Linked DNA regions of Homo sapiens: region 1 is reported to be linked to region 2. Evidence: microRNA targets listed by miRTarBase, many of them from high-throughput screens and not tested one by one. Region 2 holds a microRNA gene; the other region holds the end of a gene's coding sequence.

Region 1 (8,656 bases), not on the chromosome of region 2:
ATTGGATAACAATCCCCTTTTACTTAACACCTACAACAAGTTCCCTTACCCAACAATGTCAGAAATTACAGTTCTTTCTGCTCAAGCAAAATATACAGAGGAACAGATCAAGATATGGTTTTCAGCCCAACGTTTAAAACATGGTGTTAGTTGGACTCCCGAGGAAGTAGAGGAGGCAAGAAGGAAACAATTCAATGGAACAGTGCATACTGTACCTCAGACCATAACTGTTATTCCTACACACATTTCCACAGGGAGTAATGGTTTACCATCTATTTTACAGACATGCCAAATAGTTGGTCAGCCTGGTCTGGTCCTTACTCAAGTGGCTGGAACAAACACCTTGCCAGTTACAGCACCTATAGCCTTGACAGTGGCAGGCGTTCCAAGTCAAAATAATATACAGAAAAGTCAGGTACCTGCTGCTCAGCCTACTGCAGAAACAAAGCCAGCAACAGCAGCAGTTCCAACTTCTCAAAGTGTCAAACATGAAACTGCATTGGTAAACCCTGATTCATTTGGCATTCGGGCAAAAAAGACAAAAGAGCAACTGGCAGAATTAAAAGTTAGCTACCTTAAAAATCAGTTTCCCCATGATTCAGAAATTATCAGACTTATGAAAATAACAGGCCTGACGAAAGGAGAGATTAAAAAATGGTTTAGTGACACAAGGTACAACCAGAGAAATTCAAAGAGTAATCAGTGCTTACATCTCAACAATGATTCCTCTACCACCATTATTATAGACTCCAGTGATGAAACCACGGAATCCCCAACTGTTGGTACTGCACAGCCTAAGCAATCCTGGAATCCTTTTCCTGACTTTACTCCCCAAAAGTTTAAAGAGAAAACTGCAGAGCAGCTTCGTGTCCTTCAGGCAAGTTTTCTCAACAGCTCTGTACTTACAGATGAAGAATTAAATAGGTTAAGGGCACAAACCAAACTTACCAGAAGAGAAATCGATGCTTGGTTTACAGAGAAGAAGAAATCAAAAGCTTTAAAGGAAGAGAAAATGGAAATAGATGAAAGTAATGCAGGTAGTTCCAAAGAAGAAGCTGGAGAAACTTCTCCTGCAGATGAATCTGGTGCACCTAAGTCAGGGAGTACAGGCAAGATATGTAAAAAAACACCTGAGCAGCTGCACATGCTTAAGAGTGCATTTGTCCGGACACAGTGGCCATCACCAGAAGAGTATGACAAGTTGGCCAAAGAAAGCGGGCTTGCTAGAACAGACATAGTTAGTTGGTTTGGGGACACCCGTTATGCTTGGAAGAATGGAAACTTGAAATGGTACTACTACTATCAGAGCGCCAATTCAAGTAGTATGAATGGTCTGTCTTCCCTTAGGAAAAGAGGGAGAGGGAGACCCAAAGGACGGGGAAGAGGAAGACCGCGTGGGCGGCCTAGAGGAAGCAAAAGAATTAACAACTGGGACAGGGGACCATCACTCATAAAATTTAAAACTGGAACTGCAATACTTAAGGATTATTACCTGAAGCACAAGTTTCTTAATGAGCAAGACCTTGATGAACTTGTTAACAAATCACATATGGGCTATGAGCAGGTCAGAGAGTGGTTTGCAGAAAGACAGAGAAGATCAGAATTAGGTATAGAATTATTTGAGGAAAATGAGGAGGAAGATGAAGTTATTGATGACCAGGAAGAGGATGAAGAAGAAACAGATGATAGTGACACTTGGGAACCTCCACGACATGTGAAACGGAAGCTGTCTAAATCAGATGACTGAAATGTAAGTTAAGAAAATTTTTAATCTGCGTATATGTTCATCAACCACATACATTTTGAACAGTCACCTTGTTGTATCAGTCATCTTCATTTTTGATATTTTCTGAAGTAGTTTTTCTTTTCCCTAATAAGACTAGGTACCACTAGTATAGCTAAGAGATAAATGATTATCATGTGTAGTTTTATTATTATTATGTAGAGTTTAATGTCTTAATTATTATTTTTCATATGAATTGGGTTTTTTTTACTTTGTTTTGAAGGAAAGTTACCCAATCTCTATGAAGGGAGACTGGCAGGCAGGTTGAGGGGATTCACAAACAAATACTAAAGATAACTAAAATGTATTTTATTGCAATGCCCCCTTCACTAAAGCTTCATTTTTTGCCTATTTAAGGAAATAATTCAAAAATGAAAACTAAAAAGAAGGGGAAAAGTACACCAAAGGAAAGACTTACCACAGGGTTGAGGATTGTGCAGTTTTAGGAAACTAGGTGAAAATGGGTATCTTTTCATCTTCATTGCATTGCTCCCAAAACTTTACTAGACTTTTAACTAGAGTTTAAAATGCTTTATGTATTTATGAAATTACTCAGTATCTTTTTAGTAATTTATAAAATTACTCAATATCTTTTTCTGTTAAAAGTCAAAGGTCTGTTTTAGGCCATATATAAATTCATGTTTGCTTAGGCGGCATCTGTCTTTGAAAACTGTGATATAAATTATTTCTGTTTTAGAGATCAAAAGGCAAATAACAGATTTGATATAAACCCAATTGCTTAAAATATCTTTTCATTCTTTGGTATAAAACAAACCTGCTACCAGCACTAACATTGTATTTGATTTAAAGTATATCTCTGTAGTCTTAAAAATGCAAATAAATATGGCTTAAATTTGAAAGGTTTTGGCATGTTCCTTAAATCTTAGTTCTTTTATAAATTGGATTAATTAAAGTTGAACTGTAGTTGCAAATCAGATACCTGCTTTGGAGTTAGGAATTGAATTCTTAATACTTCTGGAATTTAATAACATAGTTTTATTCTTTGCTATTCTTTGTTTTGGAGTGTTCCGGGGTAAAAGTACACTGTTTTGAAAACAATGCAGTTGTCATGAAATGTTTGTGTATGTCTGTCAGTAGTCCAAATAGCATCTTGCTATCAGAAATGACTGCTGTGTTCAAACAGTAAGGAAGGAAATGAGACGTAGACCCTCATTATTATTTTATACGTGAGCATGCTTACTTATTTCCTTGGCTTTTTGCATGAGTATCCCATCCCCTACTTTTATGCTCTGTTATTCTGTGCAGTTTTTCCTTAATTCCCTTACATCTTCTCTCTGGTTTTATTTATTTTAACAATTATTTATAGAGAGCTTAATATGTACCAGGCACTATTCTTACTGCTTGGCAATCCTTTTTCAGGTTTTCTCCTTGTTAATATTTTTTAAGGGATAACAGATGAAACTAAAAATGTACCTGTTTTAATAAGCAGTATAAATATCATTCCAGGTTATAGGGTATAATGTAATCATTTTAGGTTATAAGAAGTTAAACAGTTTCATACAGCTTTATCCTGAAGTGCAGCCCTCCATTTCCTAATGTCAGAAATCTTCAGAGCAGGCTTTCTTCTGACCCAGATACATAAAATATTTTTAACAGGCATTTTTTTTATTGCTAAACACAAGAATGTGCACTCAGCCAAGATTAAATCAACAAATTTGTTGCTGCAGTGAATGTTGTTGTTGTAACCTCTGCAATGATTTTTTTGGGGAGTTGCAGTCTTCCAAAAATAATGTGAATTTTTCTGTACAGTTTAGTTTGACCTTTAATTTTGTATAGATAATTCTTATGTTATATATTAACACTGTAATGGATACTAATTCTGGTCAGAAAATTCATCCTAAAACTACAGTTTTCAAAAGACTGTATGATGTATGCTATACATGCACTGTATTAGTCCATTTTCACACTGCTATAAAGAACGACCTGAGACTGGGTAATTTATGAAGAAAAGAGGTTTAGTTGACTCACAGTTTTGCCGGCTTAACAAGAAGCATGACTGGGAGGCCCCAAGAAACTTACAGTCATGGCAGAAGGCGAAGGGGAAGAAGGGGAAGCAAGCACATCTCACCATGACCGAACAGGAGAGAGAGCGAAAGGGGATGTTCCACACAACTTTCAAACAACCAGATCTCCTGAGAACTCACTCACTATCATGAGAACAGCCAGAGGGGAAGTCCACCCCCATGATTCAGTCACCTCCCACCAGGCTCCCTCCCCCGACACTCCCTGATTAAAAGTTATGTATGGGCTTATACAATTTCAAATGTAAAAACAGCCTATTTACATATGTTGAAACAATAAGATTTTGTGGTATCACTGTCCCTTAATAATTACAATTCAAGGTAAGATTTGGATGGGGACACAGAGCCAAACCATATTATATACTTTTGTGATAGCATAGAAGCATGCCTTTTTAAATACACAAAAGTCTAAATTTCTGAAACATCAAGTTATCCTTGGCTGAGTAAAATAATTTTTCACTTATAAGAGGATTCACCATAGCCTTCTCTAAATAGTTATTTCTTCATTTAAATATTGTTCAATTTACCAAAAAAGTTACCAAAACCTTCCCAAAATAGTTATTACAGGAAGTGAGGTACATATATATCTTTTGCACCTTGTATAGAAATAGAAAAAAGTACAAGTCTTTAGATTTCATAGTCTGCTTATTACAGATACTGACAATGAAATATATACTCCCTGCTCATACAGTTTGAAATAAATTATTACATAAAGATGATAAATGTTTATAAGCAAATCTAGCATATGAAGAACATATACATAGATGAGTTGCACACAAAGCCTAGTGTATTATGGAAGACATATGTGGCAGGTAATCTCAAGAGAATACAAAAGATGTATTTTCACTTTTATTTCTAAAAGTAGTAAAAATTAAAATATGGTTTTCTTTAAATTTTCAGTTTTTTATGATGTTTTTCTTTTTTAGCTGCCTAAAACGTTGAAGGAGAATCAATTCTTCAACTCAAGATGTCTGATTTACTGTGAATTTGCCCAATCTTTGATGACATTGAAAACGTTTTGGGGCATACACACTCAAAAAGCAGGATCCAATACCCAAAAGAAATGGAACTTAATGTTGTGCCAAAGTTAAACTACTGCAGTTGGTGGAAGTTCTGCAATGTAAATAGAACACTAATTAAAAAACAACTTGTAAAAATGCAATTTAAATTTTAATACAGTACATTTTTCTTCTAATATGATGGAGACATTCTGAATCTTAGACTTTCTGAGGGGGTTTAATGACCACTAGAGCTTGTCCTCATATTCAGTCCAGTTTAATACTGTATGTCTAGTAAGATGGGCTATATATTGCCTCTATTCTTTGAGATGTGATTAAGCTTAGAACTTTGACCAAAAATTTTACAGTAAAAATTGTTAGAAATGGGTAAAAAAAAAAAAAAAAAAAAAACCCTGATTTATTACTATGTCTTATTTATCAGACCCTGCACTAAGATTAAAAGTTGTGCATGGGCTTATACAATTTCAAATGTAAAAACAGCCTATTTATATATGTTGAAACAATAAGATTTTATGGTTTCACTGGCCCTTAATAATTGGATCCTTCATTAAACACATCCATGAATACCACTGTTTCTACTGTTACTTGTTCCATTAGAAGCTGATTTGCTTTTTATTAAACTGCAGGAAATTAATTCTGAAGAAGGAAAAGAAACTGACATGGTAATTTGGATAGGGTGAAGCTTTGAAATAAATACTGCACCAAAAATGTGAAAAAGAATCACGTAGTAAATGTATACTTAGTGTTTTCTTACAATCGTGGAAATCAGAAATGTTTATACAGGTGTCAGATCAGAATTTTTAAGAGTTATCTTTCAGTGAAATTTTATAACAGTTTCAGTGAATAGAGAAAAAATTCTGAACTGATCATAATGAGTTAAAAGTTAGCTTTTCACTTATGAATCATGGGAGTGTTAACTGTTAACTCTTGCCGTATCAGGAGACTGAAAGTTCATACTAATTTACAAACTTTGTAAAGACTGGTGCTGTTCATTCATATTGGGAAGAACCCTTTCTTTTGTGACCATAGGACCATTTTTCAAAATGCGCTTTCTTCGTAGAAGAAATGTTCAGTTTAATTAGCTTTGGATTTTAACATGTTTTTCTGAATGACCAGATGTAGGCTTAGCCAGTTTATTTTCTCTAATTTAATGGATAATAAATATTAAGCTCTTGGTTAAATGTTTTTCAGCCATTGAAAATGTTATGAAAAAGCCTTGAATATGCATGCTGCTTTCATTTTTATAAACTTTTTATTTTTTAACTATAGCTTTATTAGTAATTCCAAAATGCTGCAATGTAGCTGATTTCCTCACTCAGACAGCTGGCTTTGTGGGTGGCTTTTTTCATACTACTGTTAACTTTTTTAAAAAAGAAGCAATGTAAAGACCGTAATGCACTAAGCTTTTTTTTTTTCTTTTACACGTTTAAAAACTTCTTAAAGCACTCTGTAATATAATGATTAAATTGCTCCCTTTTATAAACATTGCTAATGTGGTCTGAGTTTTGTTTGACAATAATTTTAATGTTCTCAAAATTTGAAATGTCAAGTATTAGAAATGAAGCCTTTGAATATAGTTGTTTCCCTTGCAATATGTTAACTCTGTGTAGCTGTATATAACTATTAATTTCCCTCATCTCTTTTATAGGCCTGATAAAACTCTTCTCTGACGTTTGCTAGCTTTTAAATATATTTATTTGACAGAGCAAAAGAACCCTCTTCTGGTTGATTGTGACCTTGAATACAAAATAAAAGTAGTGATTAGTAGTTTACAGTGACCTTTTTTTTTTCATTTTATTAACAAAGTCAATTTTTAAAACATTGTGGTAAAATATATATCACATACTATTTGCCATTATACCAGTTTTTAAGTGTAAATTCAATGGCATTAATTATATTCACAGTGCTGCACCACCTTCACCACTTTTCCAAAAGTTTTTCATCACCCCAGACAGAAACTCGGAACCATTAAGCAATAACTCCCCATTCCTCCCAGCCCCTGGTAACCTCTAATCTACTTTTTGTCTCTATGAATTTGTGTATTCTTGATATTTCAAAGAAGTAGAATCCTAAAATATTTGCCCTTTTGTGTCTGGCTTATTTTAACTTATAATGTTTTCAAGTTCATCCATGTTTTAGCGTATATCAAGACTTTGTTTCTTTTCATGGCTGATTTATGTTTTATTGTGTGTGTGTGTGTGTGTTTGTCTGTACACGTGCACTTCCTCCCACACACATTTTGTTTATCCATGTATCTGTTGATGGAAACTTGTTTTTTTCCCGCCTTTTGGCAATTGTGAATAATGCTGCGGTGAACATTGGTATACAAGGATCTGAGTACCCATTTTCAGTTCTTTTGAGTATATCAAGGAGTAGTATTCCTGAATCATGTGGTATTCTGTGTTTAATTTGTTGAGGAACCACCAAACTCTTCCACAGTGCTAAAATGTTCTCTGAAGCATCTGTACCATTTTACGTTCCACTAGCAATATACAAGCATTCCAGTTTCTCCACATTTTTGCCAACACCTTTCATTTTCAGTTTTAAAAAGTGATTATAAGCCCAGTGCGATGGTCTGTGTCTGTAGTCCCAGCTACCAGGGAGGCTGAGGTGGGAGGATCACTTGAGCCTAGGTATTTGAGGCCAGTGAGAGCAATATAGTGAGACCCCATCTCTAAAAATAAAATAATAAAAATTATAACCATCCTAGTAAGTATGAAGTGGTGTCTCATTGTGGTTTTGATTTGTGTTTCCCTAATGATGAGTGATAATGTCATTAGGAAAATGCAAATCAAAACTACATCTTTTCACATAATTATTTGTATATCTTCCTTTGAATATATTGAAAGTTTGTTCAATCCTTTGCCCAGTTTTTAATTGGGTTGCCTTTTTGTTGCTGAGTTTTAGTTCTTTATATATTCTGGATGTTACAGCTTTATCAGATACAGTTGCTTCTTGACTTAGAATGGGGTTTGTCCTGATAAACCCATTGTAAGTTAAAATTTTTGTAAGTTGAAAATCCATTTAATACCCTGATGAACTCACCATAAACTTGAACTATCATAAACTATTACTATTTTTTGAGACAGAGTCTCTGTTGCCCAGGCTGGAGTGCAGTGGCACCATCTTAGTTCACTGCAACCTCTGCCTCCTTGGTTCAAGCGATTCTCATGCCTCAGCCTCCCAAGTAGCTGGGATTACAGGTGCCCGCCACCATGCCCATCTAATTTTTATATTTTTAGTAGAGACGGGGTTTCACCATGTTGGCCAGATTGGTCTCAAACTCCTGACCTCAGGTGATCCACCCACCTCAGCCTCCCAAAGTGCCAGGATTACAGGCATGAGCCACTGCACCTGGTCACAATCATAAATTATAAATCCATGTGTTTCTCAGTTTACTATGGGGTTAGGTTACCATGGGATTATGTGTTAGTAAATCCATCTTAAGTCCATCATAAGTTGGGGACTGTCTGTATTATGATTTGCAAATAAGTTGATCCTCATTATGGATTCTGTATATGCAAATTTGCCTACACATTAAAATGTATTTGTAACCCCCAAATCAGTATTCATAGTACTTCCTTGGTCATTCCTGCACATGTACAGAATGGCAACAAAAAGATGTTCCCAGCAAAGGTCAACCAAAGAGATGCTTTGCCTTGTTTCAGGTCTCATACTGTAGAGAAGTGTGTGTGTGTGTGTGTGTGTGTGTGTGTGTGTGTGTGTGTCCATAGGAATGAAAAAGCATCCTTTTGTAGTCTATTTAGTGCTGTGTTTTCCATATTTTTCTGCTTTCTGCAGTTTAAAATGGT
Region 2 (8,656 bases):
GAATTTGCAGCTTGTCCAGCACCTCAGAGAACATCTAGTTTAACAGACAGTGAAATGGAGATCAGGAGATTGAGTGACATGCCTGGGTCTCCCTGTGATCCTGCCTCTGCTTATGTATGATAAGCAAGGGGAGAGTTCTTTGTGCTCATCCTGCTGCAGCAGCCTGGAGCCATGGCTTTGATCATGATATGAGTCCTGGGGGAAGGGTGTGTGTATTTCTGGCCACACTGTGAGTCCTGGCAGGGGAAGGCCATGTTTCTGACCAGACCAAGTCGTGGTAACTCATGGCTTTGATTGTGATGTAGGTCCTGGTGGGGCTGTGCTGTCTATAATGCACACTCAGTCCTGAGGGCTATGGCCACCCCTCCTTTGAGACTCTTCTGGAGGCGGGGAGGCTGAGCCAGTCTGTGTTATTAGGGCTGTGTGGTCCTGACTTAGGGGGGTGGCTGCTATTACTACATAGGGGAAAGGAGTGAGGACCTGGACTTTTTTTTTTTTTTTTTTTTTGAGACGGAGTTTCACTCTTGTTGCCCAGGTTGTAGTGCAGTGGTCCTATCTCAGCTCACTGCAACCTCTACCTCCTGGGTTCAAGCAATTCTCCTGCCTCAGCCTTCCAAGTTGCTGGGATTACAGGTATGCGCCACCATGGCCGGCTAATTTTGTATTTTTAGTAGGATGGAGTTTCACCATGTTGGCCAGGCTCGTCTTGAATTCGTTATCTCTAATGATCTGCCCCCCTTGGCCTCCCAAAGTGTTGGGATTACAGGCATGAGCTGCCATGCCTAGCCAAGTCTGTGAGCCTTTAAGGAGTAGGTCCTCAATAAGCGGAGGCAGGGTATTCTGTCATCACTACCATTCTTTCTTTGCTTCTCACTACGTCTGAGTCAGGGATTGATGCATCAGCTCCAAGCCAACCCCCGTTACAGGTGAGAGGAAGCTGAGGCCCAATGGGAAGGTCTCATAGCTCCTGAGGCAGGGCTTGTGTTTCTCCAGGCTCTAAGTGTGGAACTGAAATGTGGCTCTGGCCTGAGCTGAGGGGCTCGTGCCATCACGGTGTCTCAGGGTGTTGGGGTAGGCTGGGTTCTAGGTCCGCACTTTTTCCTGGAGGAGGAGGTAGCACCTGAGAGGCCAAAGATGAGACCTGCAGGTTGTTTGGGGATTTGGGCCTCAGGGTTCACAGCAGGGAGTGGGTAAGCAGTGAATGAACATGGAACCCGCCCATGCAGCACCTCCAGCTCCCAGTGCCTGCATTTGGGCAACACTTTACCCTTTGCATAGTAGACTTGTAGGTTGAGTGACTGCAAGGACAGTCTGGACCCGGAGGGTGTGGGTGGGGATGGAAGCGGATTTGGTCCCAGGGCTTTGTGGGGAGGAAGAAGCAGGACCCACTGCTGGTCTGTGCTTTGTACTGGGTTTTCTCTGGAGTCTAGTCCCCAGCTCCTCAGGGCACTAGGGGCTGGTGGACTGAGGGATGTACTGCACCTCCTCCACTCCCACAGGCACGCCCCCGCTTGATAAAATTTAAAGCCACACCTGAGGGCTTGGGAGGCTTTTACCTTTCCCATCATTGGCCTCCGAGCTCAGACCTGGAGGAACTCTGAGGGCAGGTGGGGCAAGAGCTGACTCAAGAAGGACTGCAGAAAGGACGGTGTTTGATGGCTTTTCTCAGCTGAAAGGTGGCAAGACTCTTCCTGGGTAAGGACATGACTGGTGTGTGCACAGGGCAACAGGAGAGATGACTTTCAGTCCCCTCTGAAAAGGGCCTCCATGGCACGTTACTTTATTTTAAAGAGCTCTTCCTTCCCTAGCCTGGCCTAAGGAGGTGAGAGCAGTTGCAGTTCAGGAGTCAATTCTGGCACCCCCTCCAGGGACTTGTGGCTGCTCCTTGGGTAGAAGTAATGGAACATAGACACTGCCCATTGCCAGGCACGTCTCAGGCCCCTTGGGCCCCTTCGCTCCTAGAGCTCATGGGGCCTGCAGCGAATTTACAGGAAAGGAACCCATGAGGGAAGTTGGGCTGACATGTCTTCACATTTCCTTCCGCACATGCTCAATGTTATAAACAGTGTGTTCTTTTTTTTTTTTGGAGACAGTCTTGCTTTGTCCCCCAGGCTGGAGTGCAGTGGCACAATCTTGGCTCACTGCAACCTCTGCCTCCTGTGTTAAAGCAATTCTCCTGTCTCAGCTTCCCGAGTAGCTGGGATTACAGGTGTGCACCACCACACCCGGCTAATTTTTGTATTTTTAGTAGAGACAGGGTTTCACCATGTTGGCCAAGCTGGTCTCGAACTCCTGACCTCAGGTGATCTGCCTGCCTCGGCCTCCCAAAGTGCTGGGATTACAGGCATGTGCCATCACGCCCAGCTATAAACAGTGTATTCTACCATCCTGTTTGCTCAGTGTCAGGGTCCTGTGGGCTCAGAGCCACAGGTGCAGCCGTGCACCCAGCCCGCTTAGTCCACGTGCTCTGTTTTGAGAGCTGCAATGTGTTCCCTCCTTGTTGTGCCTCAGTTGGCAATTTCTTATGGCTGGAATTTCCCAGTGTTTTGCTATGGTAAGCAGAGCTGTTGTGATACACTTGAACTTTGGTTTTCTTTTGGGTCATTTCCTTGGGAGCTTATCTTGGGGAGCAGAGGAGATAGGTAATTTATTGCCTTGTTTTGCACCCAGGCCTGATTTGCTGCCCTGCCTGCCCACCTTGTGCTGCGCATGTGGGTGGAAGGCGGGAAGGGAAATGCCACCAAATGCCATGGGAGGAGGCTGGAGCTGTCTCTGGGAAAATAGGAGATGTGGAGAGGGGGTGCAGATCCCCAGTCCTGAGGTTTTGGGAGTCCCTGAAGGAGCAGTTGGGGGGTGGCCCCATCAGCGGGAGCAGGGTAGATGCAGGATTTCCTCCTGCTTAGCAGCTGTCGCACTGCCCTTGGTTGCTTGAGAGCCCGGCCACCTGGCCGGGAACTATGCAAACAATGCACAATGCGGGCCTCAGCTGTCCACCGGCCCTGAGGAGGCAAGGCCTTGCCTAACTTGTTTTCCTCTCACCTTAGCTAATACTGAGAGTTCTCTGCAAGTTTCTCCACTCTCACTCAGTCAGCCTGTTTCATGGGGTCTCCTCCTTCCCGCCCCTGAGGCTCACCATTTGGGTCACCTTTAAACAAGGGGAATGCACAGGAGTGATGGAGCCCCCACTGGCAAGCAAGGCCCTTTGTTTCTCTGCAGGGCCTGCCTGGGGCCAGGCCACCGCCTCCATGCCCTGAGTCCCAAGGGCAGTCGGTGCCGAGGTACACCTATGGCTTTAGCTCAGTATCCGCCAGGGTAGGACAGAGGGCACAGCTTCCCAGAAGTGCCCAGGCTCTTGGATAGCACTAGGCTTCTCTGAGGGATGACTGCCCCATTTTACAGCTGGGGACACCGAGGCTCAGAGTTCCCAATGAGTGTCAGACTCAAGATGGCAACCCAGGCCTGACTCCTGATCCCCTGCGGAAGTGCTTCTGGGGCCTCTGTGCTCTGAGGGAAACAACTTGTTGGTGGGGACAGTCTGTCTAGGCAACCAGGTGAAGGCACTTGCAGAACCAAGAAGAGGGGCAGTGACAGGTCCCCACATCTGTTCATCTGCCTGTCTGCTATGGTTTTACCTGACCCAGGTCCTAAGGATGAGGAAAAGGAAGCTTCCTGAGGCTTCTGACGTGAGACCGCGTTTGATGGCACTGGAAACTGAGCTGAGGGCTGGGCTCACGCCTGTAATCCCAGCACTTTGGGAGGACGAGGCAGGCAGATCACCTGAGGTCAGGAATTCGAGACCAGCCTGACTAACATAATGAAATCCTGTCTCTACTGAAAATACAAAAATTAGCCAGGTGTGGTGGCATGTGCTTGTAATCCCAGCTACTTGAGAGGCTGAGGCACGAGAATTGCTTGAGCCCGGGAGGCAGAGGTTGCAGTGAGCTGGGTACCAGTGTCCTCCAGCACTCCAGCCTGGGCAAGGGCGACAGAGCGAGACTCCCTCTCAAAAAAAAAAAAAAAAAAAAAAAAAAAAAAAAAGAAGGCTGGAGGTGATGGCTCACACCTGTAATCCCAGCACTTTGGGAGGCCCAGGCAGTCGGATCACCTGAGGTCAGGAGTTTTGAGACCAGCCTGACCAACATGCCGAAACCCCGTCTCTACTGAAAATACAAAAATTAGCCAGGTGTGGTGGCAGGTGTCTGTAATCCTAGATACTTGGGAGGCTGAGGCAGGAGAATCGCTTGAACCTGGGAGGCAGAGGTTGCAGTGAGCCAAGATCGCACCACTGCCCTCCAGCCTGGGCAACAGAGTGAGACTCCGTCTCAAAAAAAAAAAAAAAAAAAGAAAAGTGAGCTAGGTCCCATAAGATGAAGCTGGCAGTTCTGCTGCCTTGGTATCTGTTCTAGCCAGCTGGGAATATAGGGGGCTGTATTCAGATCCTTCCGTGCCTCTAGCCTGGCATCTTCTCTGGCTGGCACACTGACCTGTGGCACATGGATGGTGGTGGGTGGGCTATCAGAGGGACTGTCCTTGTGGGCATCAGTCTGGGTCTCTGGTCTCAACCCCTTGTGGTCCTTACCCTGAGAGACTTCTAGATGCCTCCCTCCCTGATCCTGCCCACAGTTCCTGAGCACCAGCGCTGTGCCAGGCCCCAGGGCCCTAAAGGGCTCAGATACCACAGGGCTTCTTCTGCTGTAAGTGATCAGTCTAGAGAGAAGAGTGTCATTAGTGAGGTGACCAGGATTGAGGGTGAGGGGTGTTCCCGGTGGCCATGGAGATGCCTTGGGGAAAGGACTCATTGAGGAAGTGACTTTTTAGCTGGGCTTTGTATGATGAAAAGAAGTTCACCACAGGGAGGGCATGCAGTGGGGCTATGTGTTCTGGGAGCACTGAGTGATGGATGGGGTGGGAGAGATGTAAAAAGGTTAGGGTATGGATTCCTGGATGACAGAGGCAGGGTGTTGATTACCCTGCTGGGTTTTGGTCCTGTCCTTCATGCGGTGGGGACCCCCCTAGCCATGTTTAGCCAGTGGCAAGTTCGGTTGACTTTATGCCTGGTGGTGCACATCAGGATGAAAAGGGCTGGAGAGATCCCACTGTGTCTGCCAGAGCCCAGGCGGGCCTGGGGAAGGGGGACATGCCAACGGTGGCTTGAAACCAGCATCTGGGGCCACTCCAGGAGCTGTGTGGGGATGCTAGGAAGCCAAGAAGATACGTCTGATGCCAGTCCCATGCCCTGAGGCTGAGAGACCACAGGCTGAGAGGGAGGGGTGCGCTGGGAGGGTCCCAGCCCTCATCTGACACTGTGCTGCTTGCCTTTTAGTGTGCATGACCAACTGCCCAACTCTCATTGTCATGGTGGGCCTGCCCGCCAGGGGCAAGACCTACATCTCCAAGAAGCTGACTCGATACCTGAACTGGATTGGTGTGCCCACTCGGGGTGAGGCTTGGCCCCAGCTGTCTAAGGGGAGCTTTGTGGGGCATGACGAAGAGAATAGAGAAGGCCTATTCTCTATTATTTGGCCTGGGGTTGGGTCAAGGTCAGGGTTGGTAGGGGTTGCTGTTGCTGTGAAAGCTGAGCCTCTCCTTCCCTCCAGAGTTCAATGTTGGCCAGTATCGCCGGGACGTGGTCAAGACCTACAAATCTTTTGAATTTTTTCTCCCCGACAATGAAGAGGGCCTGAAAATCAGGAAGTAAGTATATGTGTTGGGTGTGGGGGGAGAGGTTGCTGGGGGACCCAGTGTGGAGAAAGCTAACACATTACTGACCATTTACTGAGAAGCCCCTGGAGTGGAGCTGCTGGTGAATGACTGAGCTACTCCTGAGCCCTGGCCTTGCCCAGCCCTGATGGCTGTGTGACAGGGCTGTGTGACAAGGCTGGTCTCTGGATCTCTCAGGATGTGGTGGGGGTGGGAGGTGATGGGTTTGGGGATGAGAGGAGAGGGTGTGTTGTGTGGCCTCCTGGTGGCTGGGCCATTCCTGCCCTGGGGTTAAGGAACCCTTGGGAAGGACAGAGCTTCAGGGAGGTAAGAGGGGCTCAGCCCATGCAGGTCGTTGGAGCTGCTGCCTGGAGGTCACGCTCGCTCACCCCAGCGCCCCGTGGGGATGGCTGCTGCTGGGGAAGGGAACCTGAGTGAGTGCAGGCATACAGGCCTTAGGGATGGAGCTGGGGGTGGGGGGCTTCCTCCCTTGCCCCAGGATAAGCTCTCTCCTGTGTATTTGGAGCATGTTCTTGGTGTGTGATTGCTGGTGCGATTGGCTTTGCATTGACATCTCCTAGATGCTGCTGGGTGAGTCGTTCACACTTCTGCTGTTACTCTGGAGATAGAAATATGTATATGCTACCGCCCCACCCTCAACAACTTTCAGACTTGAACTGAGTCCTTTCTTCAAGGAACTGAGCACCAGCTGGTGGTCTGAGCAGCCATGCTGTGCTTTTCTCAGGAGGTGTTAGCTGTGGTCTTGAGAAGCCCCTTATCAACCTAGGGTGGCAGAGACTTGCTCTTGGCCCAGCCATCAGGATAGGGCAGTGAGCAGAGGTTGACCCAGCTCTAGTGACTTCCCCAAATCAAGCCCAGTGGCTACCAGGCTGCCACTGGGGTCCACACTAGGCTACCCGTTCCTTCTCTGGCCACCAGGGGGCAGGAACTCCCTGCTGTGGGGCTTGGACCTTCAGACTGGAGACTGCCTTTGTTCTTGCATCGGTGTGGCTGGGCCAGGCTGTGGCACCAAGAAGGGAAGGGGAGCCTGATATTCAGGTTTCTATGGCCAAATTGTGGGTAAAAATCAAGGCTGGACCCTCTGGTTATATTGAGCCAGATAAAAAGTAGAGGACTAATGTCTGAACCTACCGTGTGCTGGGTTCTTGATGCCCATTGTCACCCCCTACTTTTACAGATGAGGAAACTGAGGCTCAGACAGGCCAGGAGTCTCGCACAAAATAGCAAGTTTACATCAGCGCCCAGACTTGAATCTAAGCCCATCCACCGCTAAAAAGTGTCCATCATTCCAATATTCCTCAATAGGTAGGTCAAGGAACATCAAATGCAAATTTTATTTATTTATTTTAAAAATTATTATTATTTGTGTGTGTGTGTGATGGAGTCTCACTCTGTCGCCCAGGCTGGAATGTAGTAGTGCAATCTCAGCTGACTGCAACCTCCGCCTCCCAGGTTCAAGCAATTCTTCTGCCTCAGCCAACAACCCCAAGCTGTGGACGCTGATAGCCTACTGTCTGATCTTCCCAGCAGCTTCTGTGGTGGGCGGTGCCTCACTTTTCCAGATGCTGGGACCAAGGCCAGAAAGTGATGGGGGTGCCTTGGGTCACTCAGGGTTTGAATTTGAAGTCCGTCCTGCCTGAATCCATAGTGTTTGTGGGGAGAGTCTGCCAGCTGTTCCACTCTGGCTGTCCCCCTAAGGTAGGGATATTTGGGATTAATTCAAATGAAGAGACCTAGACTCAGAGAGGTTGGGAAGCTAGTCCAAGGTCACCCTGCAACAGAAGCTGGGGACAGGCTCATTGCTGCCTTTCTGCAGGCATACCCTCTGGCTGCCCTAGAAACCCTCTCTGCTGTATCCGAATCCTGGCTCTGGCTGGGCCACAGGGCCATCTCCTATTAATCAGCCCAAAATTTCCCAATTAGCAAAATAAAAGGACCAGAGTTTTTAAAATGGAAAACCTGGGAAGAGACAGCTGCATTTCCCAGAGGCCCAGTTACTCACACAGTGTTGAGGTCCATCTCTGACACTGGACACAGCAGAAGATCTAGAAAAGTGCGTGCAAGGCCGGGTGCAGTGATTCACGCCTGTAATCCCAGCACTTTGGGAGGCCGAGGTGGGTGGATCACTTGAGGCCAGGAGTTTGAGACCAGCCTGGCCAACATGGCAAAACCCCATCTCTACTAAAATTACAAAAATTAGCCACATGTGGTGGGGCGCCTGTCATCCCAGCTACATCAGGAGGCTGAGGCATGAGAATTGCTTGAATCTGGGAGGTGGAGGTTGCAATGAGCCAAGATTGCGTCTCTGTGCTCCAGCCTGGGTGACAGAGTAAGACTCTGTCTCAAAAACAAAGTGTATGCAAGGGCATAAGTACACATATTCTAAACAGGCACACTCATACTCCTGCACACAGTCCTATACCACACACAAGCCCCCTATGCACACACACACGTGGGCACATGCATGCATGTGCATACCTCATAGGCACACATCCGGACATGCGTATACCATATGCACAGGGTACATACACATGCACACCCCCTGTGTACACAGTCACGTTATACATAAGGGTATATGTACATGTGTGGGCACCTACACATATAAATACTTGGGCTCACTTAAGCCACACGTAATTCAAGGGCCATTACACACACGAAGGCGCACATGTTCTCACCCTGTATATACACACACACCTGAGCACGCTCATACATGGTGTGTAGGGGGTCCCCAAGACTGCCCTCAGGTTCAGTGATTTGCTAGGGTGACTCCCAGGACTTGGCATATAGCTGGACTCATGGCTAAGACTTAGTACGGCAAAATGACACAAAGCAAAATCAGAAAAAGGGGCCTGGGGTGAAGTCCAGAGGAAACCAGGAGCGAGCATCAAGATTTTCTCCTCATGGAGTCACACAGGACGCACTTAATTCCTCCTGC

Evidence for each region. Region 2 holds the annotated microRNA hsa-miR-6823-5p (UCAGGGUUGGUAGGGGUUGCU, at 5,542-5,562, shown strand). A microRNA usually pairs through its seed, bases 2 to 8, with sites in the 3' UTR of a target mRNA and lowers its output. Matches are read on the target gene's strand: a 7mer-m8 pairs with bases 2 to 8, a 7mer-A1 pairs with bases 2 to 7 and ends in A, and an 8mer does both.
Region 1: miRTarBase lists ZHX1 as a target of hsa-miR-6823-5p. Seed matches in the 3' UTR shown: 8mer at 5,233-5,240.

The regions. Positions count from the first base shown.
Region 1 is chr8:123,246,416-123,255,071 of GRCh38, reverse strand. It overlaps ZHX1 (zinc fingers and homeoboxes 1), which reads left to right. Exons shown (of 4, transcript NM_007222.5): 3 at 1-1,750; 4 at 4,752-6,616. The coding sequence ends at 1,747. All of the region lies in intron 2 of ZHX1-C8orf76 (ZHX1-C8orf76 readthrough), which reads left to right. Among named protein-coding and RNA genes, the nearest start is that of C8orf76, 9.4 kb to the right of the region's middle. RefSeq lists an enhancer at 3,818-4,027.
Region 2 is chr3:48,546,902-48,555,557 of GRCh38, reverse strand. MIR6823 (microRNA 6823) reads left to right here and starts at 5,537; the gene lies at 5,537-5,597. It overlaps PFKFB4 (6-phosphofructo-2-kinase/fructose-2,6-biphosphatase 4), which reads left to right. Exons shown (of 14, transcript NM_004567.4): 2 at 5,324-5,440; 3 at 5,598-5,694. RefSeq lists enhancers at 2,475-3,136, 3,137-3,800, 3,801-4,462, 4,463-5,126.